4 linked regions of the Homo sapiens genome follow. The protein of the gene in region 3 interacts with the protein of the main gene of each other region in a pairwise test. Each region holds a gene or a part of one and is shown on either strand. Other genes may lie near its edges. The genes, in order: SPTLC1, SPTLC2, SPTSSB and SPTLC3.

Region 1 (9,167 bases), on a different chromosome or scaffold from region 3:
ATCACATACCCAATAATTAAAACAGAGATTTAATTTCGTACCTTGACTGTAAGATCAGATCGTTCTTGTAATTTGTAAGTCTTAGAGAAAAGAAGTCTGATTATCCAGAGGATCAGAATCCCTTCCAAAATAAGATGGTAAGCAGGAGCCTAAGAGTGAGTCAAAAACAAGTAAGATATGAAACATACACTTCTAACACCTGCACATAAAATTTACTACACCTGCATATACTGCCTCCTGTGACTTTTAGCCTATTCTTAACAATTTACTTTCGAAGCTCCCTTAATTTCTATTCATTCCTTTCCCCATTTCTAATAGCAGGCAATTTCTCCCTCACATGAAAAACCCCTAATATTTTTAGCTTTTAAAACTTCTTTGGGAATAAAAATTAAAATTAAAAAAATAAAATCTAGGCCAGGCGTGGTGGCTCATACTTGTAATCCCAGCACTTTGGGAGGCCAAGGTGGGCAGATCACCTGAGGGCGGGAGTTTGAGACCAGCCTGACCAACATGGAGAAACCCTGTCTCTATTAAAAATACAAAATTAGCTGGGTCTGGTGGCGCATACCTGTAATCCCAGCTACTTGGGAGGCTGAGGCAGGAGAATCGCTTGAACCCAGGAGGTGGAGGTTGTGGTGAGCCGAGATCACACCACTGCACTCCAGCCTGGGCAACAGGAGCAAAACTCCGTCTCAAATAAATAAATAAATAAAATCTAACACAGAATCCCAATATTAACCATCGGATTATTTAATTTCAGTGGTTCTTTTTTGGGTACACTATACAAGACTACTCAAATTCTACATTCAACACGCATAGGATTTGGGAGTAAGAAGTTTATGATGAATTTTAAAATTTGCTCATCCCCCTAAATACAATTCATTTATGAATAAGTCTAAATACCCTTTTAGTTTTCTCAATAGTTGGATTCTAGCAAGCAAACATCTGCCCCAGCCACTAGTTAAGAGCCCACTCCAAAAAGAAATCACCCTAAGAAAAGCTGAGAAACTCTCTCTCTAGTGAATTAATAAAAATCACAAACACCACTTCTTTTCCTTCCCAGGAAATGTTACATACAGGAGTTCTCCCAAGTCTCACTGTTGGACAGTTTCGGGGAATGAGAAGTTACACTACTGTCAGTCTTCAAAAAGGGAGCAAACAACATTTAACAGAAAATAATCCATTTCTTTAAAAAATCATTTATAAAAAAGATCATTCAATTTTAGTGGCTCATTTTAGGTCACTACAGTTAACCTAATACTGGGCATCACTTAATACATGAGCATAAGACAGAGCCACATCTGCTGTCTCTGCTGTTTCAAGATAAAATTCCCAGTATGTCCTGCAATGGAAGACACTGTCATTACCCCTACCAGTAGACGGTGATATTAAGTTTGGTGATATTAAATCATCAAAAGTAAAGTGAAATTCACTTGAAATGAATGTAAGCTCTTTAAGCACAGGGACTTCTGCCTATTTGTTCACCGCACTATCCCTAGCATCTAGATCTGTGTGGTCCAATGTGGACAGTCACTAAGTTACACGTGGCTATTTAAGTTAAATTAAAAATTCAGTTGCAGCTGGGTGTGGTAGCTCATGCCTGTAATCCCAGCACTTTGGGAGGCCAAAGCAGGAGGATTACTTGAGGCCAGGAGTTCGAGGCCAGGCTGGGCAACACAGCAAGCCCCCGTCTCTATTAAAAAAAAAAAAAGATTAGTTGGGCATGGTGGTATGTGGTCCCAGCTACTCGGGAGTCTGAGGTGGGAGGATCGCTTGAGTCTGGGAGGTCAACGCAGCAGTGAGCTGATCGCACCACTGCACTCTAGCCTGGGCGACAGAGTGAAACCCTGTCTTTAAAAAATAAAATAAAATAAAATAAGTTCTTCAGTGCCCAATGAATAGCTCTGCAAGACAGCACGGGGACTCTCAGTTATTAAATGAATGAACACTAAGATTGACATTCTGGTTTCTTATTATCTTATGTATCTGAAATAACTAGGCTTCAAAAAACTCTTAACTATTCTTCCTTTAAAAGTCTACGGCCAGGTGCAGTGGCTCAAGCCTATAATCCCAGCACTTTGGGAGGCCAAGGCGGGCGGATCACCTGAGGTCGGGAGTTCGAGACCAGCCTGACCAACATGCAGAAACCCCGTCTCTAATAAAAATACAAAATTGGCCGGGCATGGTGGCACATGCCTGTAATCTCAGCTACCTGGGAAGCTGAGGCAGGAGAATCGCTTAAACCCGGGAGGCGGAGGTTGTAGTGAGCCGAGATCACGCCCTTGCACTCCAGCTTGAGCAACAAGTGCGAAACACCGTCTCAAAAAAAAAAAACAAAAATAAATAAATAAAAATCGACTAAACTAGTTGTATCTTTATAAGACAGAAAACTGATGTACGCAGAAGAATGACAAACTATTTTTTATTCACAAATCCTAAGTCACTTGATTTCTTTTCGACAAAAACAAACTCCAATTTATTACAATTTTATTCCCCAACGAACTGTACCGTAGTTCCAAAGAGCTGACTTCCTTAGGACCTTCCCAGACGAAGGTGTTCCACTCATTTTCACCACTCCGTTTTATCGTCCGTCTAAACTCTGGTTTTTGCAGACCTGTCTCCTGCGTCCCCTTACACGTGTTCCTTTCCGGAGCTTCCAGGGGACCCGGAGCATAAGAATTCAAACCGAGACCCTCAGTCCCAGCCCCCGCCCCCGCCCGTTCCTCCCTACACTCAACCGCTGGGACTAGAAGCTCCCGGCAGTCCTTCCAGCAAGAGGCACCGAGTCTGGGCGTGACCGAGCCAGTCCCGCCGAGGTCTCAGGCCACAAATCCACACGCGTCCTCCCACCCTCCCCGGGCCCGGGTGTGGTCGCGGACCGCTAATGGCGCGGAGCCCACCTCGTAAAGCGCCTGTACCATCTCCACCAGAACCCACTGCTCCGTGGCGGTCGCCATAGTTAGCCGCTTCCTTCCGGAAGGCGGGTCACAAGCGCGTCCCAAAAGTGCGCGTCGCTGCTCAGTGTCGTTATCACCTCCGCAGAGGGCGGGGCGGCGGAGCGCTGGGCACCGCCTACTCGCACTTGCGCACTGGTTGACAGGAGGCTGGACGGGGTCAGGTGGGATGCCGCAGTTTTTCCAAGAATTGTTTACCTTGTGTCCTATTACCCTCCCTGCTGGATTCAGGATGGAGAAAGTAGTAATGAACGGGCCTTACACTTGGTCATCAGCTGGGCGCAGAGAGTTAAAATGATTGCAATACGTTTACTTTATTTTTTTTTTTTTGAGACGGAGTTTCGCTTTTGTTGCCCAGGCTGTAGTGCAATGGCGTGATCTCGGTTCACCGCAACCTCCGCCTCCCGGGTTCAAGCGATTCTCCTGCCCCAGCCTCCCGAGTAGCCGGGATTACAGGCGTGGGCTACCACGCCTGGCTAATTTTGTATTTTTAGTAGAGACGGGGTTTCTCCATGTTGGTCAGGCTGGTCTCAAACTCCTGACCTCAGGTGATCCGCCTGCCTCGGCCTCCCAAAGTGCTGGGATTAGAGGCGTGAGCCACCGCGCCTGGCCAATACGTTTACGTTTAGTAGCATAAGTAATCCAGCAATGCATTATCATTAAGAAATGCATAATTATACACAAAAATAGCCAACCCATATAGCACTTCCTGTTTTGTCAGACATAGGCCAAGGCTTTGCAGGTATTAAATCATATAGCAGTTTGGTAAAGAACCTTTTAGAGCCTTCCAATGCATATGCAAACAGTATGCACGCGCACATACTTAATTGGATTGGATTTCTTAAATATAATTGAGATCATAGGGACAAGACTTTTCTACAACTTTTTTTAAATTTTTTTTCTAGCATTTTTTTCCTAATATATCTCATATTTAATGGCTGAAGACTTCCATGGAATAATTTATGTATATTCATCGTTCCATTTTATGTAAACGTTTCCCTATTGGTGAATACTTATGTTGTTCCCACCTTTCCCCTATTACAAATAATGCTGCCATAACTGTCGATGTTCCTTGTGTGTATATCTTTCTGTGCATGTTGGAGTTTTTCTGACCAGTTTTTTCAACATGGGATATATCTGAAGACTATGCACGTTATTAATTTTGATAAGTACTGCCAAAATGGCTCAACCAATTAAAATAATTTGGAAGTTTTTCTATGCTCTAGTCCATGATGGATATTATCAATCTTTTAAAAAAATTTGCCAGTTTAATGGAGATAAAATGATACCTCACTATCCTTTATTATTGATGCTTCTGGTTACTCATGAGGTTGTGCAGCTTCTTATATGTTTATTGGCATTTATAGACTGTATGAATCGCCAATTCATATTCTTAATCCATTTTTCTATTGGTTATTTTTGCCTTCTTATGGATTTGTAGGAACTCTATACATTCTGAATATCTTATATTTTTCTGTTTCATATGTGAAAAATATTTTTGCTCAGTTGCCGCCTAGTTGTTTCTGCTCTTTCATCATACTTTAATTTTAAATTTTATGTAGTGCTTCAGTCTGTTTTTTGCCTCTGGATCTGCATATTGCTTAGAAAGGCCTTCTTCACCACATCTATGGTTTCCAACCATTCTTGCAGCAGTTTGTTGTTATTTGCAATTAGCTCTTTACTCTGGAAACTATATTTTTGGATAATGAGAGTTAAGGGACTTAATTATGTTTTTTTCTAAAGGAATAACAATTTTTTGAGTGCCATTTATTTGAGTAACCCTGACTTTCCCCAGAATTCTGAAATGGTACCAGTGCTATTGATACAGGAGCCAAAAAGAAATTATTTAGGCAGATAGTGAAGGTAAGAGAGTCCTCAGCAGAGCTTCTTTCTGAACAAAAAGCAACCCCAAAATTATTTCTTTTTTGCAAAGAGCAGCCTGAAAAATTGAGCTACAAACATAGATAAGCAAGCTGGCAGTGCACGGGAGAATGCTGGCAGTTGTGCCGATAGAAAAAGACTACCTGGAAGCCAGGTATGTTCAATATGGAGACTCCATCTTCCATTTTCTTTGTCACCACGTGTACAGTGAAGGAACAGGCAACATGGCATCAGTCAGGTAGAGAAGCCATCTGCAGAATAAAATATTAGGGTGGGAAGGCCAGCTTCTTCATGCACTATGCAAATGGCACACCTGGTCCAACCAGTCTTTCATTCCCTACGTAAATCAAACGCCACTTCCTCAAGCTCATCTATAAAACCCTGTGCGTTTCACCGCAGAACTGGCAACCCATTTTCTCTGGGACCCCTTTCTCTGCACAGATAGCTCTTCTCTTTCGTTTGCCTATTAAACTTCTGCTCTTAACCTCACTGTGGTGTGTCGCGTCCTAGTTTTCCATGGCTGTGGGACAATGAACCTCAGGTATTACCCCAGATAATGATGCCGCTACACTATGTGCTACATTTCCACATAAGCTGGCGATATGGAGTCCGTGTCAGTGCTCTGCTCACAGTCCTGTGCTTGCGTGCATTTCCTCCCCCGGGTGCTTTCCTTCCAGCAGCCACGCCTGCATTTCTCAGAGGACCCCCTTGAAGGCTGCCATTCCCACGTTTCCTGCTCTCCTGGAGAGTTGGAAGTATCTGAGAATGTATCTTCTCCTGGGCAGTACTTACCAGTGTGGATTACTGATGGTAGCTGGGATATAAATATTGCAGCTTCCTTGCCCTACTTAGCAAGACAACTCTGAGGGGTGAACTTCACCATACTCTCTGCAATTCTGAGTCAATGGTACTATCTGCAAATTCTTTTACACACTCATCAAAAGGCATATCTTTGTGGCAGCTTCTATAAGAGAATACAGCTGCCATGTAGAAAGATCATGTGAGAACCACATAGAAGGGGAAAGAGATGACTAAGGGGCCCCAGCTGCCCCAGTCCCTGGCTGTTTGAGTCTTACTAGTCCAGGTACCAGACGTGTGAGGGACGACACCTTCGAGGTGGCTCCAGTTCCAGCCACCATCTGGTTACCACCACTGAGAGACCCTGAGTGAGGTATGCCTAGCTAAGCCCAGATGACACCCAAATGTGTGGGCAAAAATAAACGATTGTTATTGTTCTAAGCCACTGTTTTGGGATTGTTATATTTTGGGATAACTGGAAGGAATACACCGTGGGACTTTGCTTGATTTGGAACTTTTGCTTGGCCTCTGTATCAGTTTCCTAGGGCTGCTGTAACACACGATCACAAACTGGGTGCCTTGAAACAGCAGAAATTTATTCTGTCACATTTCTGGAGGCCAGATGTACAAAATTAAGGTGTTGACAGGGCTATACTCCCTCCAAAGGCTCTGGGGGGAGAAGACTTTTTTTGCCTCTTCCAGCGAGAGCCTTAACTTAGTTACATCTGTAAAGAACCTTTTTCCAAATAGGCCATGTTCCCAGGTTCTATTCCCTGATTCGAATGTTAACATGTCTTTTTGGGCTCTACCATTTAACCTACTATAGTCCAACCTCTGGCCTTCCAAATTCACATCTGCCTCATGTGCAAAATACATTCATTCCGTCTCAACATCTCCAAAAGTCTTAACTCTCACCTAAATATCATAAAAATTAATTCAAAGAGTCTCAAATATTCACATATAAATAATCAGGTGTAGGTGAGTCTATGGGTATGAGCTATGCAAGGGCAAAATTCCTCTGCATCTATTGACTAGTGAGACTAGAAAAGAAGTTACCTGCTTCGAAAACACAAAGGTGGGCCACGTATATGATAGACAATCTCACTGCAAAGCAGAGAAATTAGAAGGAATAAAAGGGTCATCAATCCCAAGCAAGTTAGAAATCCAACAAGGCAAAGTCATTTGGTTTCAAGGTCTGGGAATAATCCTCTGTGGCTTGAAGCTGTGTCTTTTGGGCTCATGGCTTCATAGGCCTCTTTGCTCATGGCAACTTGGTAGGTCTCTGCTCTTGAACATTCAGCCTCTACCCCTGTGCCCATGACCCTGTCCTCATAGTGATTCTTCCTTTTTCTTGAAGGGCAGCACATGCTGATACCTGAGTAGTTCTATCAGTCCTCTTCTTGCCTGAAGAATTGTGCATATCTGACAGCCTCTCTTTCACTTTGTCCTGTCTCAGCCCCTTCAGGCCAAGCTGACAGTGTTTCTTCTGGTACAACCTTCTCAAGAACTTTTGAGGCTCCCATGTATGTCACAGGGATCCATGCCATTAGATAAAAGAACCCCCACAGATCTTTCCTGGATAACGCTGGATCTATCCTTGGATCCGTGAGATAATTGAGGGATCCATCAGTTGTATAGCAGATCTCTTCAGCACAATATTGTCTAGGCACACCCTCGGCCCTGTATCCAGAGTACACTTTCCCAACAGTGAGTTTCCCAATTTTAGCATCTTTTGCAATCTGAATAGGCCGAGAAGCTCCCAATCATCAAGTGTTGTTTCTTTTTGCTTAACAGCTCCTTCCTCAATTTGCTTATTTCCTTTTCTGTTTCATTACAAACAGCATGAAGAAACCAGGCTGCATCTTCAACACTTTGCTTAGAAATCTCCTCAGCTAAATATCCAAGTTCATTGCCTACAAATTCTGCTGTCCACCTAAGGACACAATTCATCCAAGTTATTTGCCACTGTGTCACAAGGATCACTTTGCCTTCAGTTTCCAGTAACATGTTCCTCATTTCCTTCTTAGCCTTCAACATAAACCACTTTTAACATCTGTATTTCTACTAACACTCTGCTCATGATGAGATATACATTTCTAAGATGATGGAAGAATTCTCTACCATGCTCTTCACTTCCTTCTGTTCCCTCACCAGAATTGCCTTTAAAATCCATAACTCCACTAACAGTCTCTTCAAGAAATTCTATGACTTTTCTCTCAAGTACCTCAAAAACCATCCAACCTCTATTTATTACTCAGTTCCAAAGTCACTTCCACAATTTGAGGTATTTATTAAAGTAGCACCCACTTCCTGGTACCAAAATCTGTATTAGTTTTCTAGGGCTCCCATAACAAATTGCCACAAACTATGTGGCTTAAAACAGACAAAATTTTTTTCTCCAAAGTCTGGAGATCAGAAGTCCAACATCATGGTATTGACAGAGCCACTCTCTTTCTGAAGGCTCTAGGAGAGAATCATTCTTTCCCCTTCCAGGTCCTGGTGGCTCCAGGAATTCTTGGCTTGTGGCAGCATCACTGTAATTTCTACCTTAATCTTTTCATGGCCATCTCTTCCTGTATGTGTCTCTCCTCTGTGTCTCTTATAAAGTCACTTCTCATTAGATTTAGGGCCCACCTGGATAATTCAGGATGATCTCATCTTGAGATCCTTCATTACATCTGTTAGGACCCTTCCACCAAATAAGGTCACATTGACATGCTCTGGGGTATAATAGGGCTCTCCAGGGAAACAGGATAAATAAAACATATATAGATCTCTACATAAGAGGAGATTTATTATAATGATTGGCTTGGCCAGGCGCAGTGGCTCATGCCTGTAATCCCAGCACTTTGGGAGGCTGAGGCGGGTGTATCACCTGAGGTCAGGAGTTCGAGACCAGCCTAGCCAACATAGTGAAACCCCGTCTCTACTTAAAATACAAAAAATTAGCTGGGCATGGTGGTACGCACCTGTAATCCCAGCTACTTGGGAGGCTAAGGCAGCAGAATCGCTTGAACCCGGGAGGCGGAAGTTGCAGTGCACCGAGATTATGCCACTGCACCCCAGACTGGGGGACAAGAGCGAGACTTTGTCTCAAAAAAAAAAAAAAAAGGCTCACATGATTATGGAAGTTGAGAAGTCACACAATCTGCCATCTGCAAATTGAAGAACCAGGAACATCAGTGGTGTAATTCAGTCCTCGCCCAAAGGTTTAAGAACCAGGAGGACCAAAGTCCAGGGGCAGGAGAACATGGATGTCCCAGCTTACACAGAATGAAATGTACCCTTCCTCTGCTTTTTTGTTCTACTCAAACTTTCCATGGATTGTATCATGCCCACCCACATTAGTGAAGGCAATCTGCTTTATTTAGTCTATGAATGCAAATGCTAATCTCTTCTGGAAACACCCTTACAGACGCACCCAGAAATAAATATTACCAGCTATGTGAGAATCCCTTAGCCCAGTCAAGTTGACACCTAAAACTAACCATCACATGGAGATTAGGACATAGGCATGCCTTTTTGAGATCCACC
Region 2 (8,707 bases), on a different chromosome or scaffold from region 3:
TGGGTATGTTAGGGACAGGCAGCCATTACATGCATCGCCATTCATTAACAGTCTACACAGAACCTCTAGATCACAGGTAAGGTGGGTTTCTAGGAGAAAAACATGTATTCATTATAGAGCTGAGTAACCGAATCCTCTAGGACAGCCATCCTGCCGCTCCCCTGAGCCAATATCCTTGCGCTTCCCATTTTAAAAAATAACAAAATTATAGCTTTGAGATACAATTCACATTCAGCAAAATTCACTTTTAAAGTATACAATTCATTGCTTCTAAGTATATTCACAGAGTTGTGCAACTTTTGTCACTATCTAGTTTTAGAGTATTTTTATCACCCTAAAAAGCAACCCAATACTCGTTGTCTCAATCCTCACTCCCCCTCCTCTCAGGCTGGCTGCCACCAATCTATTTTCTGACCCTATGATTTGCCTGTTCTGGACATCTCTTATAAATGGAATTGTAAGTTATGTAGTCTTTGTTTTGGCTTCTTTCATTTAGCCTAATGTTTTCAAGGTTTATCCATGCTGTAGGGTTAAAACTTCACTCTTCTGCATCCAGCTGACCTAGTACTGTTTGTTGAAGAGACTATTCTTTTCTCATTGACTGGTCTTGGCTCCCTTGTTGAAAACAAATTGGCCATAGATGCTTGTGCTTTATTTCTGAACTCTGAATTCTACTTCACTGGTCTATACGTCTATCCTTATGCTAGTACTCGACTGTTGTAATTACTGTAGCTTTGTAGTAATTAGCTTTGTTTTAAAATTAAGAAGTGTGAGTCCTCCCACTTTGCTTTTCCTTTTCAGTACTATTTTAGCTATTCCCTGCCAGTTCCATATACATTTGAGGATCAGCCTTTTAATTTCTGCAAAAAAGGGCCAGTGGCTTAGGGTCTCCCAGTCCATTTTTTTCTGAGAAATGCTGAACACAGGATCTGTAGGTTGCTATACTGCCATCTTAACAATATTAAATCTTCCAATCCATGAACACAGGATGTCATTCCATTTCTTTAAGTCTTCTGTAATTTCTTTCAGCAAAGTTTTATAGTTTTCAATATACACATCTAAAAATACAGTGTACAAGTGTAAATTAGCCAGTGTACAAGGGAAAGGCTTTTTTTTTTTTTTTTTTTTTTTTTGAGACAGAGTCTCGCACTGTCGCCCGGGCTGGAGTGCAGTGGTGCGATCTCAGCTCACTGCAACCTCCGCCTCCCAGATTCAAGTGGTTCTTCCGCCTCAGTCTCCCGAGTAGCTGGGATTACAGGTGCCCCCCACCATGCCTGGCTAATTTTTTGTATTTTCAGTAGAGATGAGGTTTCACTGTGTTGGCAAGGCTGATCTCAAACGCCTGACCTCCCAAAGTGCTGGGATTACAGGTGTGAGCCACCGCACCCAGCCAGGAAAGGCTTTCTTAAGTTTATTACTAGGTATTTTCTTCTTTTGAAAATTGTAAAAGAAATTTTCTTTTCATTTGTTCATTGCTGGTGTATAAAAGCACTAATTTTTTGTGTGCTGATCTTTTACCCTGCAACTTTGATGAATTCATTTATGAGCTCTAGCTGTGTGTGTGTGTGTGTGCGCGCGCGCGCATGTGTGTGTGTGTATTTTACAGCACTTTCTATATACAGAATCATGTCATGAGGCCCATTATTAAATGAAAATTAATTTGTATCTCATAATGGTCTAGTACACGTTTAGTTCCATAAAACATCATAAGACAAAATGACTTTAACAAATCCATGGTTTCAAAAAATGCACTTTATGCTTTAAAAAACTAAATGGGAGGCAAAGCCCAACAATCCCTCAAGAGAATCTTATGAAAAGGATTAGAACTCTCAGTTGGCAAACATACTTGTTGGCAACAGAAATCTCCTTAGATATCCTAAGGAGATATCCTGGTTACATCTAAATTCTTTCATGAATGTGTACAGTTCTCAGAAGTCAAAGTTGTGGTCAGAAGGCATGGATTACTGCCATAGACACTGGTTATAGTTACACAGACTTTTTTTTAAAGGCACATTGAAATTCTGAGTTAACAGGTGAACATGAGAAAGAAAAAAGAAAATTCTTAAAACATCAATAGAGTAGGAAGGAAAGAAAAGCTGAAATCTCTAGGTTAAAAAAAATCATCACAGAAATTCACCAGTAAAATTTCTGAGAAATGAGAAAAATCCATTGGAAAAATCTGACAGGCATAATCAAAATAAAGAAAAAAAAGATACAATATCAAAAAGTTGAATCTAATTGGATATTGTCAGAATGTAATTAAGAATATGCTCACAACACTGTGCCTATAGTTAACAATACTGTATTCGACATGGAAAAATTTGTTAAGAGGACAGATCTCATGTTAAGTGTTCTTACTACAATTTTGTTTTTTAAAAGGGAATACACTTATACTCATAGAAATTTTGCTGTGTAGAAACAGAGAAGAAAAGTCAAGTCTTCGGCTATTCAGGAATACAAAATGTCCATCAAATTGTTATAATTAACTTTTATAAAGAAGCATTCATAATGTTCTTTAGGATTAGTAGCTCTTGCCAGGCAGTGGCTCACGCCTGCAATCCCAGCACTTTGGGAGGCTGAGGCAGGCGGATCACCTGAGGTCGGGAGTTCGAGACCAGCCTGACCAACATGGAGAAACCCTGACTCTACTAAAAATACAAAACTAGCTGGGCATGGTGGCGCATGCCTGTAATCCCAGCTACTCAGGGGGCTGAGGCAGAATTGCTTGAACCCAGGAGGCAGAGGATGTGGTGAGCTGAGATCACGCCATTGCACTCCAGCCTGGGCAACAAGGGCAAAACTCTCTCTCAAAAAAGAAAAAAAAAATTAGTAGCTCTCTAACTCATTAATGGATATTTCTAGCAACTAATTTTATGCAAATGTCATGTTCTAAAGCTTTATAAACTCCCAGATGGCAATAATGATTTAAACTCTGAAATCTTAGACTTGCAACAATAACATATTAAGAGAATATATAGAGATGAGAATATCTTGAGATAATAAATAATTAAGCTTAGTAATAATGATCCCCAACTAGATGCCTGGCAGTGTGGTGGGTGCTGGGATATAGAATCAGTAAAACAGACTTATTCCTATCCTCAATATTTATCTAATGGAGAAGACTGCTATTAAATAATTATAGGTGTGAAGAATTTAGTAAGGGAGAATCTCAGGATTCCAAGGGAACACAGAGCAAGAAGGTGTGGGGCGCCCCTGAGCAATTTTCCTTTAAATGGAGATGTGAAGAATGAGTGGCAGTCAGCCAGGCAGAGGGGAGAGAAAGCTCAAGAGAGAAAATTTTAGACAGAACAACATATGAGAAAGCTTAATGTAGAAATAGCTAGAGTGGAAAGAGAATTGTAGAGTCCATAGTGAGGGAGACAGTAGAGCAAGACAAAGCCGGAAAATTCTCCAGAGCTCTCATGATGCAGGTGTGGTGGGTGACAGTTTTTTTGTAAATGCCAATGTTTTTGGTAGCACTGTCACCCCCTCTGTCTTAGGTGCTCACAAGAACATCAAGATCAATATATTATGAATTTCATCTAATATACAGGCCCTTTTAATAAAAGGCATATTTATATCAAGGTGAAAGTGCCTACTTACAGTATCAAGTATTTCTTTGGTATGAGCTGCTGACAGGCAAAACCTGGCTCTGGACTCAATAATTGGGGTGGCAGGAAATCCAACCACAACGACACCGATGTTCCGCTTCAGCATCTCCCGTCCAAAGGCGCTGCAAAGGGGAAAACAAGAACAGAAACCAGGAGGAGTGAAAAAGCACTCATTACAGAGGACCTGCTGTCCTCAAAGATTTCAACTCTTTGGTGATGCAGGCATTGGAGACTTCTAATAGGAGTTTCCTTTAACTCCTTTTAAAGTTAAAATTGACAGCTCACAAATACTTTTAAAGTCAATCCTAAAGCAGTCTTCTCCTATATGGTGTCCTTCACAAAACTGAAATAACCAGCCTGGGCAACATGGTGAAATCCCGTCTCTACCAAAAATACAAAAAATTAGCTATGTGTGGTGGCATGCACCTGTAGTCCCAGCTACTCAGGAGGCTGAGGCATGAGAATCTCTCGAAGCTTGGAGGCAGAAGCTGTAGTAAGGCAAGATCACACGACTGTACTCCAGCCTGAGCAACAGAGCAAGGCTCTGTCTCAAAAAAAAAAAAAAGTGTCCCTGATATGTAATAGTGGTTCAGAGGCTTCAAAATGAACCTGTATTTAATTAAAATCTGGTCCTTGAAATGTTAAGCTTGGCAGTTTAACATTAATCCGCAAATTCTGAGGATTCTGCAGCTGTGGGGGATCTGCTGTAACACGGCACATCTTTTCTGCTAGCAGAATGGCTGACTGGCATGAGCTCTCCAGATCACACGTTTCTTTAATTGTCTTGGGAACAACACTGCTTCAGAATTCAGGGCTTCCTTTGGTGTCTGTCAGGCCAGTTCACCCGCTGGCTTCAGCTGATTACTCAGACCACACAATTCGTATTTAACAATCCCCCACCCCTATCGTAAGCCAAATTGGAGGCCCTGTGGCCTTACTCCACATCTGTATCTTGTCTAAATAACACATTCTAACTTTTAGTTAATTTTGTCTACTAAATTATGTGGGTTTTTTTTTGAGTCTCTCGCTTTGTCGCCAGGCTGCAGTGCAGTGGCACGATCTTGGCTCACCATAACCTCCACCTCCCAGATTCTAGCAATTCTCCTGCCTCAGCCTCCCGAGCAGCTGGGATTACAGGTGTGCACCACCACACCCAGATGATTTTCGTATTTTTAGTAGAGACGGGGTTTCACCATGTTGGCCAGGATGGTCTCGATCTCCTGACCTTGTGATCCACCCACCTCGGCCTCCCAAAGTGGGATTACAGGTGTGAGCCACTGTGCCTGGCCCAAATTATGTTGCTTTTTGTCTTTTCCTCTTATTGACCTCCCTTATGTTTCAACTTTTCCTTTAAGCTGTTTACAGCATTTGTTTGAGAATAAAAAAATGTGGCCGGGCCAGTGGCTCGTGCCTGTAATCCCAGCACTTTGGGAGGCCGAGGCGGGCAGATCACCTGAGGTCAGGAGTTGGAGACCAGCCTGGCCAACATGGTTAGACCCCATCTCCACTAAAAAATACAAAAATTAGCCAGGTGTGGTGGCACACATCTGTAATCCCAGCTACTGGGGAGGCGGAAGCACAAGATTTGCTTGAACCTGGGAGGTGGAGGTTGCAGTAAGCCGAGATCACGCCATTGCACTCCAGCCTGGGCTATACAGATCCTGCACATTTGGCATTACATTAATGCCAGTCTTTTCACAGCCTTTTCCCACTCTCTGTAGTACCAGTACATCTTCCTCAACATACCTCCTTTGTGTCAGCATGAACCTGGGTGCCCTGTATCTTCAGCACATGCTCCCAAACTGTCTAGTGCCTTATTCTAATTCTTTACCTTCTCTAAATCTTTTTTTTTTAACTTCTTAAATGCACAAATTTATTTTTTCTCAACAAACACACATCTTAATGCCTTTACAACTTTTATCTCCCCAAATATACCTTGCTTTTCTTTATACATGCTGTATACAGAGTTGTTTTCCTTATATTTAGTAGTTATTGCTTTTTTGTGCCCTTTTGGGTCCTGTACCTTCTCTAAATCTTTCCTAATTAAAGTGTACACAGTCAGTTGCACCTATGTAGAATAAAGGAGACACAGCCTTCTTTAAAGAGAGCTCTAGACTGAGTCCTTTGGATCTGATAACTCTTCATGTTTGTTTATGAGAATTCCACTTAAAGAAGAATGAAGAAAATCCTTCCCCATCCCCTCTGAAGCCATAATACCAACTGCCCATATGACTTCATGTTGAAACCCAAATTCTTCTTTTTCTCTCAGGGAGCACCTTTTCCTTACTTCCCTTTCATTCTCTTTGAATCACATTACTTCCAGGTTCCCTGATTTAATTTCCTCTCCCATATTCATTTCAGTAAACATTTACTGAGTGTCGGAGACTGTGGTGGACACTGGGGATTCAAAAATTTACAAAAATTGCTCCTTCAATGAGTTCAATCAAACTGGAGAAATGCTTTAAGATCCAGCTCAAAACTCACCCATCCAACAAGATGTGCCTTTCTTACTGAGCCTATACTAAGCAGGTCACTCCTTTATTCTACATCTTCAGGGCCACTTTGCATATAATAAAATTTGTTCAGTATAATTACTGTTCATTTGCTTTTCAAATGTCTTCTGGTTTCATTATACATCTGGACTTCTCAAATACATTGAAAGCTATCCTAGGGCAGGGCTTTCCATTATGTATGCCTCATACAAACCAAAGAAGCTGGTGTAATCTGCACACCTGGTAAGTATCCAATAACACACTCTGATAAAACCTCTCTGACCTCATGGCCCACTGCTCGCCCTGGGGCACGGTGCTCCAATTCCAGGGACCTCTTTGCTACTCTTCCGTCAGCTAAGCAAGCTCGCTTCTGTACTGTGGCCTTTGCACAGATGCTTCTTTCTCCAGTGGCTGTCAGCTCCTTCAAATCTTTGCTCAGATGTCATTTTCCTTCCCAAGGAGGCTTCCTTACCCTGACCACCCTATTTAATAGTGTTATCGGCCCGCCCACAGGGCACTCTCAACTCCCCATATAGGTCCTGCTCTATTTTTTTCCATAGCACTTGACACCTTCTAACATCGTACACAGTTCATTTGTTTATTATGTCTGTCTGACTGTTGCCCCCTACTAGACTGTAAGCTCCACAAGGACAGAGATGTTTGTATTTTATTCACTGATCTATCCCAGGCCCCTAGAGAGTACATGAAACTCAAATGTTTAATGAAAGAAGAACAAATTAACATACTTTACAATTTGGAATCCACTATTTGATCTATGGCATATGTACCAAATGAAGGTTAACACAGTAAGGACAAGACCATTTTCCCTAACAAAATACATAAGCCCTGGTCTCACATCACAGATAAGGATAAGGACAGACTGGTCTGTGATCTGCAACAAAACGTACCCAATTTTGGCAGGCATGTAGAGCATCAAAGGCACTACTGGAGAGTCTTCATTTCCATAGATGATGAAGCCCATCTCTTTCAGGCGTCTCCTGAAATACCTGGTGTTTTCAGCTAACTGTTGTACACACTCTTTACCTGGAAAGTCACGGTGAGAGAAAACAAAATAATCCTAAGTAAAAAGGAATGGAAAAAAGACAGTAAATCTCCTCTATCTCCATTCTATCTAATCAGTTCTGTTTCGTTTTTTTCCATTTCACCATAAAATATTTTACAGAGTAAACCATATGGAATATAAATGTAAAATGTCTCATTTTGTATTCTGTCATTCTACCTGTTAACAGCAGAAGTTATAATAATGTAAAAAACGTTTAATGGAGCGTTAGCATCCTCAAAGAATTTCAGCCATACCCCCTCACTGAGCACTCCACAAATCCCTTGACAGTAGGCAGGATATTTATGATTATCTTCATATTATAGGTGGGGAGACTCTCACCAAGGTAGTGACATGCCTACAGTTGCACAATAGTGTGTGGCACATTACAAGTAGCAAGTGGCATAGCTGCAACTAGAATTTACATCTTCTAACTTTAAGATTCATTCTAATTAACTGTGCTGCAAATAAATTTTACACATAAGACCAGAGATGAAGCCTTTAGACCCCCAAATTTTCATCTTCTGAGTTTCATTTTGTTGTTTCCTTACAATTCTTTTTTTCTTTTTCTTTCTTTTTTTTTTGAGACGGTGTCTCACTCTGTCGCCCAGGCTGGAGTGCAACGGCACGATCTTGGCTCACTGCAATCTCTGCTTCCCGGGTTCAAGCGATTCTCCTGTCTCAGCTTCCTGATAGCTGGGGTTACGGGTGCACATCACCACGCCCAGCTAACTTTTGTATTTTTAGTAGAGACAGGGTTTCGCCATGTTGGCCAGGCTGGTCTCGAACACCTAACCTCAAGTGATCTACCCACCTTGGCCTCCCAAAGTGCTGGGATTACAGACATGAGCCACCGCGCCTAGCCTGTTTCCTTAAAATTCTTACCAGACAACAGTAACATATCTGTAATAGTATAAAATCGTATCTTTAATCCTATTTTGCTCATCTTCCCTAAAACACAAATAGATTAAAACACACGTTTCTGTCTGCAATTGCCAACTGACTAAATATTTGGGCAGGTTTTGACATTATGGTAAGTCAATCTTTGAAAAGATATCCAAACAACTGTTCTGTTATACAGAGCAAAGCAATAAATTTAAAAGATCTGCTTGGAAAGGGCTAAGAACTGTTTTAGAATCTTCTCAACCATGAATACTCATGAATAGAAAAGGCTGCAGTAATTTTCATATATAGATTATAAAATCAGCAAGTTCATATTTTTAAAAGTCCAAGCATGATACATGACATAAGTTCTTATGACAAATTAACCAGACATACAGATAGCTAACAATGTCCTTAGAATCAGAATACTAACATATCCATCATTCATGGGAAGCTACTCTATATAAGTTGGCCACAAATAAGTCAAAATTAATACTCTTTATGTAGATAATTTCAAGTTGATCACAGAAAAACACTCAAGCTTAGATTAGCCTAGTGTGAGCACTGAAGAGCATCATTTATGTCATCGCTTAAGTTACAAAGAAGAAAGCAGACATTAAAGTGTGTTATATTTAAGTATGTTGGGAACTGATGAGCCAAGT
Region 3 (4,927 bases):
TATCACAATTCATAAATATTTTGCTTGCTTGTATTTTTGTTGTTGTTGTCGTTATCTTGCCTACCAGATACTATCATTAATAACTCCAGAGATGTTTCTGCTTCTGTCTCATTCATTTTCATTTTCTAGTACCAAGCCCAAAGACTAGCACATGGTAGGCTTTTATTCCCTATGTATTTTTTTAAAAGTTTCAAACATAATGTTAACAGAATTTGACAATTAATGCCTGTATACCTAGCATCTAGTTTCTATTGTTATGTTTTCCTCATCACATATTTTTTCATTTTTCCATCCTTGTATCTACCCATCAATACATGGTTGACTTTTAATAAATTTATTGAATGAATGAATAAGTGTTACTCTTTTAGTCCATAGTCAGGAGCTGTCCATCTTTTGGTTGGCCTAATACAGACACTGAGCTTCTTTGTTTTTGTGTGGTCACAAGGTAGAAGGAGCTATATAATGTCCTCGTGGGTGGGAATTTGCTAAGCCCTGTATCAGGAGATTCAGAAATAAGGACAAATCTGCCTTCTAGAATCACCCCAGTAAGAGGATCTAAATATATTTGTGATGGAAGAAGAAAAAAATAGGAAATGTGGATGAGTGTTTTTTTTCCACAAACAACTTAATGAAGATTGGTTAGTCCTATCTTGATATTTAAACTGCCTGATATCTTGACATTTTGTGTTTTTTGTTGCACAAGCAGATAAAAGTAACTGTTGACTTGGCCAATACCAGGGAAAGAACATTTTACAATTTCTCGTTCGGTGAGTGACAAATGCAAGCTCACCGGAGCCATGGAACCTTTGGCCTTTCTTGTTTTTAAAGTTCTGTACACATCATTGAAATATCCAAGTAATGGAAGCAAAGGAAAAACACACAAAAAGTGTTTCTAATCTAGGCAAACTGGGGTCAAGGTAAAGAATGTCTCTCTCCATGTCTAGAAAATAAACTTAGCAGGCAGGGAAAGTAATGCTTACTCTTCTTTCCCACTACATGCTGATTGATAGGTTTTTTTTCCCAAACTATTTTTGATTATGTTTTTTGGACCCTGTATTTATTATTTTGACTGCTCAGAAGAAACACCTTCGAAGTGACATCCTGGGGTGGTGCTTTGCAATAATCTTTTATTAAGCTTTGCTGTGTCTATTCATGTTTATTTTAACTCTCTTATTTTTAGATGGAGGATTTTTTGAGAAGGTCAATGCAGTATCTTTGTGATTGAATTCCAGGAGTACTTAGCAGGGGTCCATGTATATAAGGGTGTTGAATCATTATGAACTGGGAATGCATCCAAGTTCATGCTTAACTGAGAATTCTCTTTAAATATTTAGAAGTGAAAGCAATCTTTCAAAATAGTCATGTGGGCCTTGGAAGCATAGAAATGGGTGAACACAGCATCCTAGGTACAGCAGCAAAGGTGACAGCTGGGACCTCAGCTTATCATTCCTCCAACCTTGGCTGTCTCCTAACGCTCTTCCTTCTATTTGATGGAGTTCTACTTTCAAACGTTGGTGACACTCATCCCATCAACTTTCATCTGTTCATTTTGTCCTCCCCTGGGCTTTCGTGTGCAAAATATTTGCAGGGCCCGGTGTGGTCCTGACCTGGATTTGCATCCTTGCTATGCTACTAGTAGCTACTAGTAGCTAATCGACCTTGAACAAGAAATGTAACTTTTTCAAGTTCCAGGCTCTTTACCTGTAAGTAGGAGACCTTTATACCTACTCCAACATGGAAAATGTGTCCAGCATGGAGAAGTCCCTTGATAAATGTTAGGTTTTTGTTACCGTTTTAACACCAGTTACCACATTGGATTACTAAAAAATGATAAGCTGGGGAGAAATATGCAATGTAACATCTAGATATTTAGTGCAATATGAATAAAAAGTAAATCTGGAAGTAGATATTTACTTACAAAATTAATTTTATTTTGCAAAACTCAACAAATACATGTTCAGATCTGGTTTCTCTTCAAAACATGTGTTTGTTTTTTTAACAAACATGCAAGTTAATTTGGCATGCCAAACATCTTTCTCTCTAGCTCACCTTGGAAAAATTTTTTTCATAACACAAACAAGGGTGCAAATATTGTCCAAACCTATTTACATTTTTACCCTCTAGAATTACATACATTAATATTTATTGGGAGGAAAGCAAAACTGCAAAACGTAGTCTTTGGCATTCACATTTGCTTCAGCAGTATAATTAAAACCTTATATTTGTTTTAAAGATAAACAGTTTGAAGGAAATTTAATAAATCTTGTTTTGGCTCTGCAAAGGAGCCACTATATCAAAGCATTTAACTGGAGCTGTTGAGTTCCTGCTGGTAGAATATTACTTCCAGCCTATTTATTAGCTTGTCTTCCGGTGGCCCAATACATGCTTTTTTCCCTCTACACTGAATGAAAGTACAAAAAGAAAACCATTTCTTTTCTCTTTTTCCCCCAGCATCATGCAAGGCAAGGCAACACCACAAATACAATAACTGAATTTACTTTGATTATACTTTAGTTTCTTACACTTAAAATTATTTTGTATTATAATACTTACTTGGTTATCTAAAATCAACATTGTTGATTTTAAACGGTTATAAAGCCAGACTTTAAGAAGCATTTAAAACAATTCATGAACTCTGTATGAAAGGAAATAATTGCCTCCAGCTTATTCTTTTGCATTTGAAGTAAAAGAATTTCCAGTATCATCAGTTTACTAGAAAATAAGACTTAGGGGGTCCATATAATTTATTCACATCTTTTTATACATCGTAAACAAGGATAGGATACTTCTGACAGTAGCCTATAAAGATTTTTTAAAATTTATCCTTTAGTATAGAATAAGTGTCAAGGGAGCACTTTAAGCATGATTCTGGTAGGTCTGTTAGGAGTCTATTTTCCAGAAAAATTTTGTAGGAAATTGTTCTGATTTTAAATAAACTAAATTCATAGATTTGTGTTGACAGAATATGATTTGTGAGGTAAAGTCACTGTATTATCTCCGGTCTAAAGCACAATGTAGCATGTGCAAAAGAAACTAAAGAGACATGTATTTCAAACTCCAGGCAGAAAGGCAGAATATAAGAGTGCATAGAGAAGAGAGTGCTTTTCAGGTCAGATAGTGAAGGAAGACACAATAGTTACCTAAATCAATAAGCTGTAAGCAACATATAAATATGCAATGCCATTTCACTGAATGTGAACAGGATCAATTAGAAATTGTACTGTGATATCCACATATTTTTGAGAAAAATTCCCAAGCCAGGCGAATGTGGATTGGAATAAAGACATAGGCAGTGTATACCACCATAGCAATAATGGTTAGTAAGATGGTGTTAAACATAGATCGCTCCCAGGGCTCTAAAACAGCACAGCAGCTAATGATTTGGTATTGATAGTAGAGCCAGGAGAAATATTCCTTCACACGCCTCAAATCCATGGTTGGCTCCTTCAAGCTGCAGTAAGTTTGTCCTGTTAAAGAATGTAACAGATTAGAGGATGAGGAACCAAACATAGAATCACTTTAAAATTTCATGATCTCAGCATGTTAAAATCTTTCAAAGATTTGTTAAAGATCATTGAATATATTATTAATATATGAATATTCTGTAAAATAATACATACTATATTAACTATAAAAATTAATAATATTGTCACCACTACTAATAATCACTACTAAAATTGGCAGCAATAATACTATTAGTAACAGTAACATCTATCTAAACATGACAATTGTTAGAAATAACTTTAGTGATAATGGTACCTAAAAATTGAGGTTAGCCTCATTTTCCTGAGCCATGTATACAAAGAGAAATAAAAGTGAACCTAAGCACAGCTCTGAGGAAGAGACTTTTGAGATAAGGTCCAAGGGATCATTATGAGTCAAATGGATAGAATAGACAGTGAAGTAGGGAGAACAGCCAAGACAGAGGGAACAATATGTACAAAGGTTGGAGGTGGGAAGAAGTAGGTTGCTTTTGAGGGGCCACGGAGGGAGAAGGGAGCAGGGAGTGTGATGACACTGAAGAGGTGGGAATGGCCACAGTGAGGCCAGAAGCTGTAGGGCCTAGTTGGATAAGTTAACTGTTTTATCTTCAACCTCTGAGTTAGGGCAATGCTGTGGTGGGTTTGAGAGGAGGAGGCTTTAAGTTCATGTGGTAATGCTGCATTCTGGAGTCAAGTTGAAATGACTTTGGAGCCCAAGTATTTCAGAAAATCTGTACCTCTACTCTTCCCTAGGGCATTACTGTTTCAGAATCAACAGTATACTGAGAACCTGTTTAAAATATTCTTAAATACTCTTCATTTTTACAAATGAGATAATATTGCTTATTTAGAAATATTATTAACTTTTCTCTATATGTTGTGGCTATTTATTTATTTATTTGTTTTTGAGAGAGTCTCACTCTGCTGCTTAGGCTAGAATATAGTGGCACAATCTTCGCTCACTACAACTTCCACCTCCCAGGTTCAAGAGATTCTCCTGCCTCAGTCTCCTGAGTAGTTGGGATTACAGGCATGCACCACCATGCCCGGCTAATTTTTTTTTGCATTTTTAGTAGAGATGGGGTTTCACCATGTTGGCCAGGCTGGTCTTGAACTCCTGACCACAGGTGATCTGCCCGCCTCAGCCTCTCAAAGTGCTGGGATGACAGGCATAAGCCACTGTACCCGAACTTGTTGTGGCTTTTACAAATGCACTAATTGTCGGGCTCGGTGGCTCACGCCTGTAATCCCAAAACTTTGGGAGGCCAAGGCAGGCGGATCATCTGGGGCCTGGAGTTTGAGACCCGCCTGGCCAACATGGTGAAACCCTGTCTGTACTAAAAATACAAAAAATTAGCTGGGCATGGTGGTGGGCACCTGTAATCCCAGCCGCTGGGGAGGCTGAGGCAGGAGAATCACTTGAACCTGGGAGACCTGGGAGGCAG
Region 4 (8,707 bases), on a different chromosome or scaffold from region 3:
CACCAGTTTTGATCCTTGGGACCCTTTAACAAACTAGGCCTAGACCAAAAGCCTTGCCTGTGGATAGAAGCAGTCTGCAAAGGCTTACAGAATCCTAGGCTGCTGGTCTCCCAAACACGTTCTGCCTGGCCTAACGTCTTCTGCCGCAGCATCTAAGATCCTACCAGCCCCTCCAATGATCCTCCCACCCTTTCTCTTCCCACTTATTTGCAACCACACAGCAACACAGTTATCTCTTTTATACATTAGGGGACCCTACAAGATTCTGTTGACAAAGGGTTCCCTGGCATAACAAACATATGAAAATTACTATTAGGCGGTGCTCATGAGTCCTCCTTCCCCCTGGTCCAGCGTAGGCTGCCATCCCTGCTCCAGCCTGCAGCAGGCTTGCTGCCCCAGTCTCAAGGCTGGCAAGGACCAGAGCCTTTCCATTCTTAGAAACCTTCTAGAGTTCCTTTCTGGAGCTTTTATGGAGCCTGACTATTTTTCCTGTTTTTTTTTTTTCTTTAAACCTCATATGTCCTGAGAATGCACAAAAACTGGTTTTCATCACTGACTAAGTCCATTTATTTGTTTATTCCCAACATGGCCTCCTACCTTTTACTTGTAACAGGACACTATCATACTAGAGGATTTGTTCTCCCTCTTCATGAGCATATCCACACTACAGACAGATGGGTGCTTAAAGTCTTAATCTATAAACTTGATATTTCTTATAATTTTTATTGAATTAAAATTCTTCCTAATGAATAGGAATTTCCTATTCCTTACTTAATTCTATATAATTACTTTGCAACTATTATCCACATAATTGCTTTTTAATTCCCAGCAATTATTTTTGACCTGACCATAAACTTTTATTTGGAAAACCAAAACCTAGGAAGGTAGACCTTGTGTCTCCATTGCATTTTCCCAGAAGTAGTTTCTTAAGAGGATAGAGTCTGCATTTTCTTCTCTTAAACGAAACCTGCAGGATGAAAAAAAAATTGTAAAGTTTTCCTAATCATCCCTTTCCTGGAAAACAAAAATGTTTGGGGATTAGAGTTACTCTAATTCAAGGTTTATTGAGTTCTTGACCTGAATGTTGTAATATTACCAGGTATAGGTTATGAGCCCTAACAGGTGGTTGCTTTTTTTTCACCAATACTTATTAAGCATCTGTTATTCTTAGGACCTATAAAGATAAATAAGAAGTTTACAATTTATCTGTTAGGAGAAAGCTTATATCAACATTAAAATAATCACATCAAAGTTAAATGCTAGTGCAAGGACAAGAGCTGCCATAAAGCAGACATAACTTGAGTACAAATGAGTGGTATAGATACTAGTACTAGAAGTTGGAGAAGAGCAAAAATAATAATAAATATCAATATTCTGCTATGTATCAGGAAGGGCTAAGCACTTCAGGCAGGCATCTCCTGTACCTTCAAAACAGCCCCATGAAGTGGTAGTATACTGTCCATTATACAGATGGGGAAAGATAAATCACTAAGGAACTTCTGAAGAATCACAATCAGCATGGCCAGGATTTGAGCCCAAATCCAAGTTGCTCCAAAGCCAGTTCCTTTTTCAGTATGTTCTAGGAAATCACAAGTTGGGGTGGTCAGTGACAGCTTCTCAGAGCAGAGAAGACTCAAATTGAACCTTGAGACATTATAATTGCAGAAAAAATAGGGAGCTTATTCCTGAGGGGCAAATGAGGAAAAGACAGGAAAGGAACTCCAGAGATGAATGTAGGAGTTGCTAGTAAAGGGCATAAGAAAGGTCATGAAGCATTCCAGGAAGCTGTGAGGCACAATAGGTCATGTGACTTTTGAGAGACTTTTCTCAATTCAGTGAGCCTTCATCGCAGACAGTGAGAAGCAGTGCTGTGGCTGAGGTGGTGCTCAGCAGATGCTGGAAGAAGAGAAAGGATTAAGCCACATTATTATGGAAATCATTTCCAGTTTTAGAACCATTTAAGCTGAACTTCTATTCTCCCCACCTTTCTATATCCTCTTGAAGTCTGCAATATCCTGGTAGAGCTACTCTTCTGCTGTAGTATAAACTTCTTCTAGAGAATAAGAGCAATGACTGATTGATAGTTTAATTGCAAACAGTGGTAGCTGCCTGACAGCCGTGGTAAGTACCTGTGTCTGTGGGGCTCACCTAGGCTACCCCCTGATTGAAATAGAGGTCAATATTCTCTCCAATTACTAGGAGAATTCATAAACTAAAAGTTTTGGAAATCCCTTTCAACTGCTCTGAGTCTTCATCTTAGTCTTGTCTTTGGTGTTCATTTTCTAATGCCTTTGTTTCTTGGCTCCTATTTCCTTAAAACAATCCCCAATGTGGCAAGGCTTCTCCATGAACTCCTTAAGGAATCCGCAGTTTTTCATGAGCTCATCATTTATAAAGCATTCTTGTGTGTCAGGTGCTGCAGTCATTAAGATGAAAATATTCTCCCTCCATTTATAAATAGCTCACAGTATAAATGAGAAAGACAAGCAATTATAGTATTTAATGGTAAGTACTATAGCAAATGTTACAGTTATCTATTCCTATGTAACAGCCAGTCCAAAACCCAATGGCTTGAAACAATAACTATTGGATTGTTCATGATTCAGGCAGGGGCTGCTAGGGATTGCCTTTCTCTGCTCCACGTGGTGTTTGCTGCAGATCAACTTGCCTGAGCATCCAAGATCACCCCATTCACATGTCCCAGACCTTGGTACCAGCTGTTGTCCAAAGCACCTTGTGTCTACTTCACCAGGACACCCTCTGCATGTGGTCTCATTATTCTGCAGAGTAGCCCAGGCTTTTTTACAGGATGACTGGCTTCTAAGAGAGTAAAAATAGAAACTACAAGACCTCTTTTATGTCCTAGGGACATTTCTGCTACATTCTGTAGACAAAGCCAGTCATAGTCCAGCTGAGATGCAAGGCGAGGAGAAACAGATGCTGCTTTTTTCATGACAGAGGCTGCAAAGTCACATTGAAAAAGGTTGTAAGGGATTGGAGAGATTATTGTGACCATCTTTGGAAATAGTCCACCACAATAGAAATATATGGACCTTGCATGGGAACACAGAAGAATGTGTATCTGACCTAGGCTGGGAAGACAACTTGCTTCAGAGAGGCATTTGACCCAAGTCTTGAAAGCAGAGTAGCCAGTTGTACAGGCATAGAAAGGCATTCCAGCAGAGGGAAAGGCTGTTAGAAGGATATAAAATATCAGAGCATTATGCCTTTGGCCAATGAAAGATGAGTTCATGGTAGGAGGTTCAGGATGCTTAATGGAAAGAACCAGGTGGGAAAAGATTGTAAAATGCCTTTGTCTTAGTTTACATTCCCCAAGAAACAGACCCAGAGATAAAGATTTGAGTGCAAGAAATTTATTAGGGAGGTGAACCCAGGAAGCACAGAGGAAAAATAGTGAAGTGAGGCACAGAAGGGAAGGAAGCCGATACGCTCATGAGCAAGTTACCATTGTTGGCAACTGGGACTGAGACTTGTCGGGGACATCTGGGAGATGGCGTACAACACATCTCAAAGCTGTCTAAATTTAAAAAAAAAAAAAAAAGATAAATGTCAACCAATTCCGGTCCATAATCAGTTGAGGGATGCTCAGCACTTGTAGACTTTCCACACATGGGCTGAGCACACTCCTATGGCAGAGAAAGCCCTCAAGCTGAGCTACAGGTGCTTGCAGTAAGAAATCACCAGAATGGAAGAAGGTCTGGATGCGCCAAGAGTGTCTTTTATAACCATTTATATGTGCAAGTGATGGAGGTTTGAGAAGGGAATTAGCATGATCAGATACGGTTTCTCCCAAACTGTGTAAGCTTTATTTATGGTGACTCTTAGAGCATGGTTTATGAATTAGCCCTGATCTAATGGGCTAATCATCATACAAGACAGGATTATGCTGTTAAGCAACATAAACAGAGCTTACCCACTGTGTTTGGCAAAGGAGAAAAGGGATATATCAAGGGTAAATATTATTGCCATAATTTGTTCCCTTTGCACTCAAGCAAGATGAAAAACCAGAAACCATGAACAGCTTAGCAAATTTTAACTATATAAAAAAACTAAAACTTAATATGGCAAGAAGCATCATAAAGGGTAATGCATAAAAAGCAATTGGAAAGCATGACTGAAGTAAAAACTCCTTTACAATAGCACCAGAAACATGAAGGACCTGGAAATAGATTTAAATAAAATGAAAATCAATTGGAAGGGAGTATGAAAATGCTACTGAGGGACATGAAAGGAAACTGAAAATAAGTGGAAAGGCATACAACACATGTAGAGGAAGACTCAGGATGAAAAATGCATTAATTCTGCCTAAGTTAACCTATCAGTTTCTGTGTAAGTCCAGTAAATAAATCAACATATTTTTGAGCCAGACAAATGACATTGAAGTTTATGTGTAAAATTAATAAGGAAGAATAATTGGAAAGACTATGATAAATAATAATAATGAGGGTGACTAGCACTACCAACTAGTAAATCATGTTGCTCACCAAAAGAATTAGAATGGTTTTCTATTAGTACATGAACAGATAGATAAATATTATAGGTAATTGTTAATCTATTAAAGTATAAGAAAATATCAATTTTAAAATAATATTTACATGGGAAAAGTCTTTATAACTATGATATAATACCCAGGAGCCATAAAACAGGAGGTCAACAATCTGACTACATAAAAATCAAATATTTATTTCTGCATGGCAAAAACAAAACAAGAATAACACCGTGAAATAACCAAAAGGCAAATTACAGACCAGGAAAATGTTTAAAATTTATATCATAAAATGCAATTTTCTGATTATATAAATAACTTTTAGAAATGAATACAAAAAGAGGCCAAACACCAGAAAGAAAAGAATGGACAAAAGCTATGATGAGGGAAATACAATTTGAAATACAAAAGGTAAGGAAAGGAAGAGAAAGAAGGGAAGAGAAGTCAGAAAAGGGAAGGAAAGGAATATGCTAGAATCAGTTTCCATGAGAAAAGAAAGAAAAGTCCATTTTCTCAGTTTGTGTGCATTAAGTGCAAAGTCAAGTTGAAACTTAGTTTGAATAATCTAGTTATTTTGATCAGTTTAATAATGATAATAGTAAAGCTAATAAATCAATTGTTGATGGGTGCTACATGCCAGGTCCTACTATGTAATTTGCCTCATTGAATTCTTATAGCAGTAATGCAAAGTGGATATTATTAGCCACATTCATACAGATGAGGAAACTGATGCTCTGAAAACATAAATAACTTACCCCAAGGTCACACAACTAGAACAAAACTGGGACATAAACTCTAGGCTATCTACCTTATCCTAACTTCTTACTTCAACAACTGTCGAAGACCCCATGATATTATCTACTTTCTATGATAATAGGCTTAGAGACCTTTATTTAACAACTGAACATAATACCAGTTGTCTAAGGTATCAATAATATACTTTTAAAAAGAAAGGTGCTTATGCTTTCACTGTGACTAAAGATATTGAAAGACATCAAGCTCCAATAGCTAATGCATGTTGGCCTATAGTTAAATCTTTGGGAGGTAATCAAGAACATAATAATTATAATAATCTTTAACATGTCTTGAGATCTTCAAAGTGCCAGGCATTCCCAGTGCTTTATGTTCATCATCTCACAGCATTCCTATGAGGTATTATTTTTGGACCCATTTTATAGGTGAGGAAACAGAAAGCTTTAGTAACTCAACCAAGGTCACCAACTTATAAGTATCAAAACCAGGTATGGAAACCAAGTTTGTTCAATCCTAGAACCTAAGTTCTTATCCTTTAGTCCACGCTTCCCCTGTAAACACAAGATAATGTTAGGCATGGGATTCATACCCACTTCCAGAGAGAAGGGGCCAGCAGACACAGCCTTAAAGGGCAGAGTCAGTGTGAGTTAAAAGAATGGTGAGTTGTTTTGTTTTCCTGATTTTTCATTCTTAATAAAAATTTTAGCTTATCACAAATGACACCAAACTGTCATATATCTGTGCTTTCAATAGGCAATGTTATTCACTCAGAGACATACCACATTAGTGAACCTGTCACCTCCATGCCTCACTTTGAACAACTCTAAGCTAAAGAAAATTGACCTCATGTGACTCTGAGTCATGTGGACTCACACTTAGCCCCAGTCAGAGCTTGAGAGATAGTCTGGCTTTCAGGAGCTTTTTTCAAGAGTACATGGCCTCCCTGAATAGAAACTTCACTTAGTACAATATTTTCTGGCAATACTGATATCTTAGACATGATGCAATAGATCAAGCTTGTCGACATGTGGCCTGCAGGCTGCATTTGGCCCAGGACATCTTTGGATGCAGACCAACATAGATTCATAAACTTTCTTAAAACATTATGAGATCTTTTTTGTGATTTTTTTTAGCTTATCAGCTATCATTAGTGTTAGTGTATTTTATGTGTGGCTCAAGACAATTCTTCTTCCAATGTGGCCCTGGAAAGCCAAAAGATTGGACACTCCTGCAGCAGATGAAAGATAGTTACAAATTCTTTGGAGTATTTCCCATTGAGAGGTAGAATCTAATTCTAATCCACTTGAACCTGGGCTAGACCTAATGACTTACTTGACCAAAAACGTGATGGAAGGGACAATCTGGGACTCCTGAGAGTCAGTTACAAGAAGACTCGCAGCTTGAACCCAGTCCTTGTAGAGTGCCCATTCTTGGAATCCAGCCACCATGCTTTAAGGAAGCCCAAGCAGCCCAAGAAGTTCAAGGAGAGAAACCAAGTATCCTTGCTCTGTTTCTAGCTGAGATGCAGTACCAACTTCTAAACTGTGTGAGTGATGTATCTTGGAAGTGAATCCTCCAGCCCCAGGGTGTGTTTGCTCCAATTGATACTTCATGGATCATAGACCAGCTGTCCCTGTTGGGCTCTGCCCATATTAAAAATTCTTGAGCAAATAAATAATTGCTGTTTTAAGTTTGCTGGTGGCTTATTAAGCAGCAATAAAAACTGAATACATGGATATTATATTTCCTTAAAATGACTAGAAAAGTCATTGTGCAATCTCAGTACCATTTTCAATGCTTTCATTTATATTTACATTTACAGAGTTTGCTTTGACCATGAATTTGCTATTAATCATTGGCAAAGACACATTTTCATAAGTTATAAATTTCTGTTTTGTTTGGCATAAGGACTGTATGCTTAAGCCCTTAACCAGAGATGAGTGTCCGGCTGTAAAAGCCAAACACAATGAACCTAAACCAATGCAAAAGCACACCCATTTGAAAATTGCCAAATCTGAAGTGTAATTATTAACCCTTAGGAGGTCTGTAATTTATTACATTGTCTATGAAGAAATAGTTGACTCAATAAAGTGTGTGTGCTCAGGTGTTTCATTGGCTTAATTAACATATTTTAAGTATTTTTAATATCTGCCAATTACAAATTAATTTTATCTATTGGTTAAAGCTTCCTGGAAAAATTTTCTCTCACTGTTGAGGTAAATTGATATTAACCTAATTAATTGCAAGAAGTCAACTATGCTGATTTTGAAATATATTTAATGTTTTTAGTAAATATGGCTACCTTTGTCTCAGTTGGCCTGTACTAATGTAGTTTTACTGGAATTCTAAGGTATTACAATCTATAAATTTACGACAGAAAGATCTATTGCCACCATATTAGAAATATTTTCCGGTGATTTGGAGTTCAAATTAACTATTTTGGGGGAAAAACACTACAAGCATAGCTCAGAGAAATACTCAAAATTATCCTCCACAATCTACTTCATCTATCTATCACAGTGCCATCTGAATCCTGCTCTCCTGAAGAGTTTTGACATATTGAAGATCATCTGAGCCCAGCGGAGTTTCAGATTGCAAATGCCTAGAGGAGCTAGCAGGGCCTTGTGTAGGACAGTAGGAGATGGTAAGAATGGGTTTAAATGAACAAGGCCTGGTGTTTCCAAGAGACAGAACAGGCTCCATCTTGATAGTTTTTCCAACTTTTAAAAGAAGCTGGAAATCCAAATTGAGGAAAGGAGGTCTCATGATTTCTAAATGTTGGCATCTAATTTTTAAAAATTCAAATCCTGTGGATTTAAAGAAAACATTGCTAACAAACACCAATTTGTAACCTCTAAACTATAGGCAAACAGAGTGTAGGAAATAGGCTAAAAAGTCCTAAGTACAGTGCTATTTTCTCATTTGTTTAGGAAAAATGGCTCAGAGAATTTGGCTCGCCTCGATTTAATTTACTTTATATTTCAAAAAGTGATAGATGAGTCTTCCACCTTCACTTTCCTGAGTTGATATATTAACAATTACCCTAGACTCTGCAGGTTTGAGGAACTCTTATGACCAGCTACATACACTAGATTTCCTTGACTAACCCAAATCTAAAATATTAAGTCCCAAAGTGTTCATCAAAGTGTTAGAGACCTGGTGATATTTATTGACCAAACCACAACTCTCAGATTTCATAGTCAGTGGTGCACAAACCTTCGTTAGATGATGTATTCATGAAGTCTAGTCACCAAGATTGTTCTCTAAATCTGGTCTAACTGGACCTTCAAAAGTTTCCCAAGCAAAAGGCTATGTGCAAGTCTTAATTATTCTCTTACCTATGGGTTATACACAGCTCTTATTTGTCTGTCTTGTGGTTGTGAGTCTTTTGGAGTTCAAGGATTCCTTTGAGAAGCTGTTATATACTTTCTAATGAAAATTAATATG

Evidence for each region.
Region 1: the proteins of SPTSSB (region 3) and SPTLC1 interact in a protein complementation assay, tested with the Homo sapiens proteins (one study listed by IntAct).
Region 2: the proteins of SPTSSB (region 3) and SPTLC2 interact in a protein complementation assay, tested with the Homo sapiens proteins (one study listed by IntAct).
Region 4: the proteins of SPTSSB (region 3) and SPTLC3 interact in a protein complementation assay, tested with the Homo sapiens proteins (one study listed by IntAct).

What each region holds. Positions count from the first base shown.
Region 1 is NC_000009.12:92,112,414-92,121,580, forward strand, and holds the start of SPTLC1 (serine palmitoyltransferase 1), read right to left. Parts: upstream 3,001-9,167; 5' UTR 2,958-3,000; coding exon 2,901-2,957; intron 2,654-2,900; exon of another isoform or gene 2,509-2,653; intron 150-2,508; coding exon 42-149; intron 1-41. UniProt on the Homo sapiens protein: Component of the serine palmitoyltransferase multisubunit enzyme (SPT) that catalyzes the initial and rate-limiting step in sphingolipid biosynthesis by condensing L-serine and activated acyl-CoA (most commonly palmitoyl-CoA) to form long-chain bases.
Region 2 is NC_000014.9:77,514,435-77,523,141, forward strand, and holds part of SPTLC2 (serine palmitoyltransferase 2), read right to left. Parts: intron 7,148-8,707; coding exon 7,012-7,147; intron 3,734-7,011; coding exon 3,604-3,733; intron 1-3,603. UniProt on the Homo sapiens protein: Component of the serine palmitoyltransferase multisubunit enzyme (SPT) that catalyzes the initial and rate-limiting step in sphingolipid biosynthesis by condensing L-serine and activated acyl-CoA (most commonly palmitoyl-CoA) to form long-chain bases.
Region 3 is NC_000003.12:161,342,889-161,347,815, forward strand, and holds the end of SPTSSB (serine palmitoyltransferase small subunit B), read right to left. Parts: intron 3,468-4,927; 5' UTR 3,436-3,467; coding exon 3,205-3,435; 3' UTR 1,910-3,204; downstream 1-1,909.
Region 4 is NC_000020.11:13,011,244-13,019,950, forward strand, and holds part of SPTLC3 (serine palmitoyltransferase 3), read left to right. Parts: intron 1-8,707. UniProt on the Homo sapiens protein: Component of the serine palmitoyltransferase multisubunit enzyme (SPT) that catalyzes the initial and rate-limiting step in sphingolipid biosynthesis by condensing L-serine and activated acyl-CoA (most commonly palmitoyl-CoA) to form long-chain bases.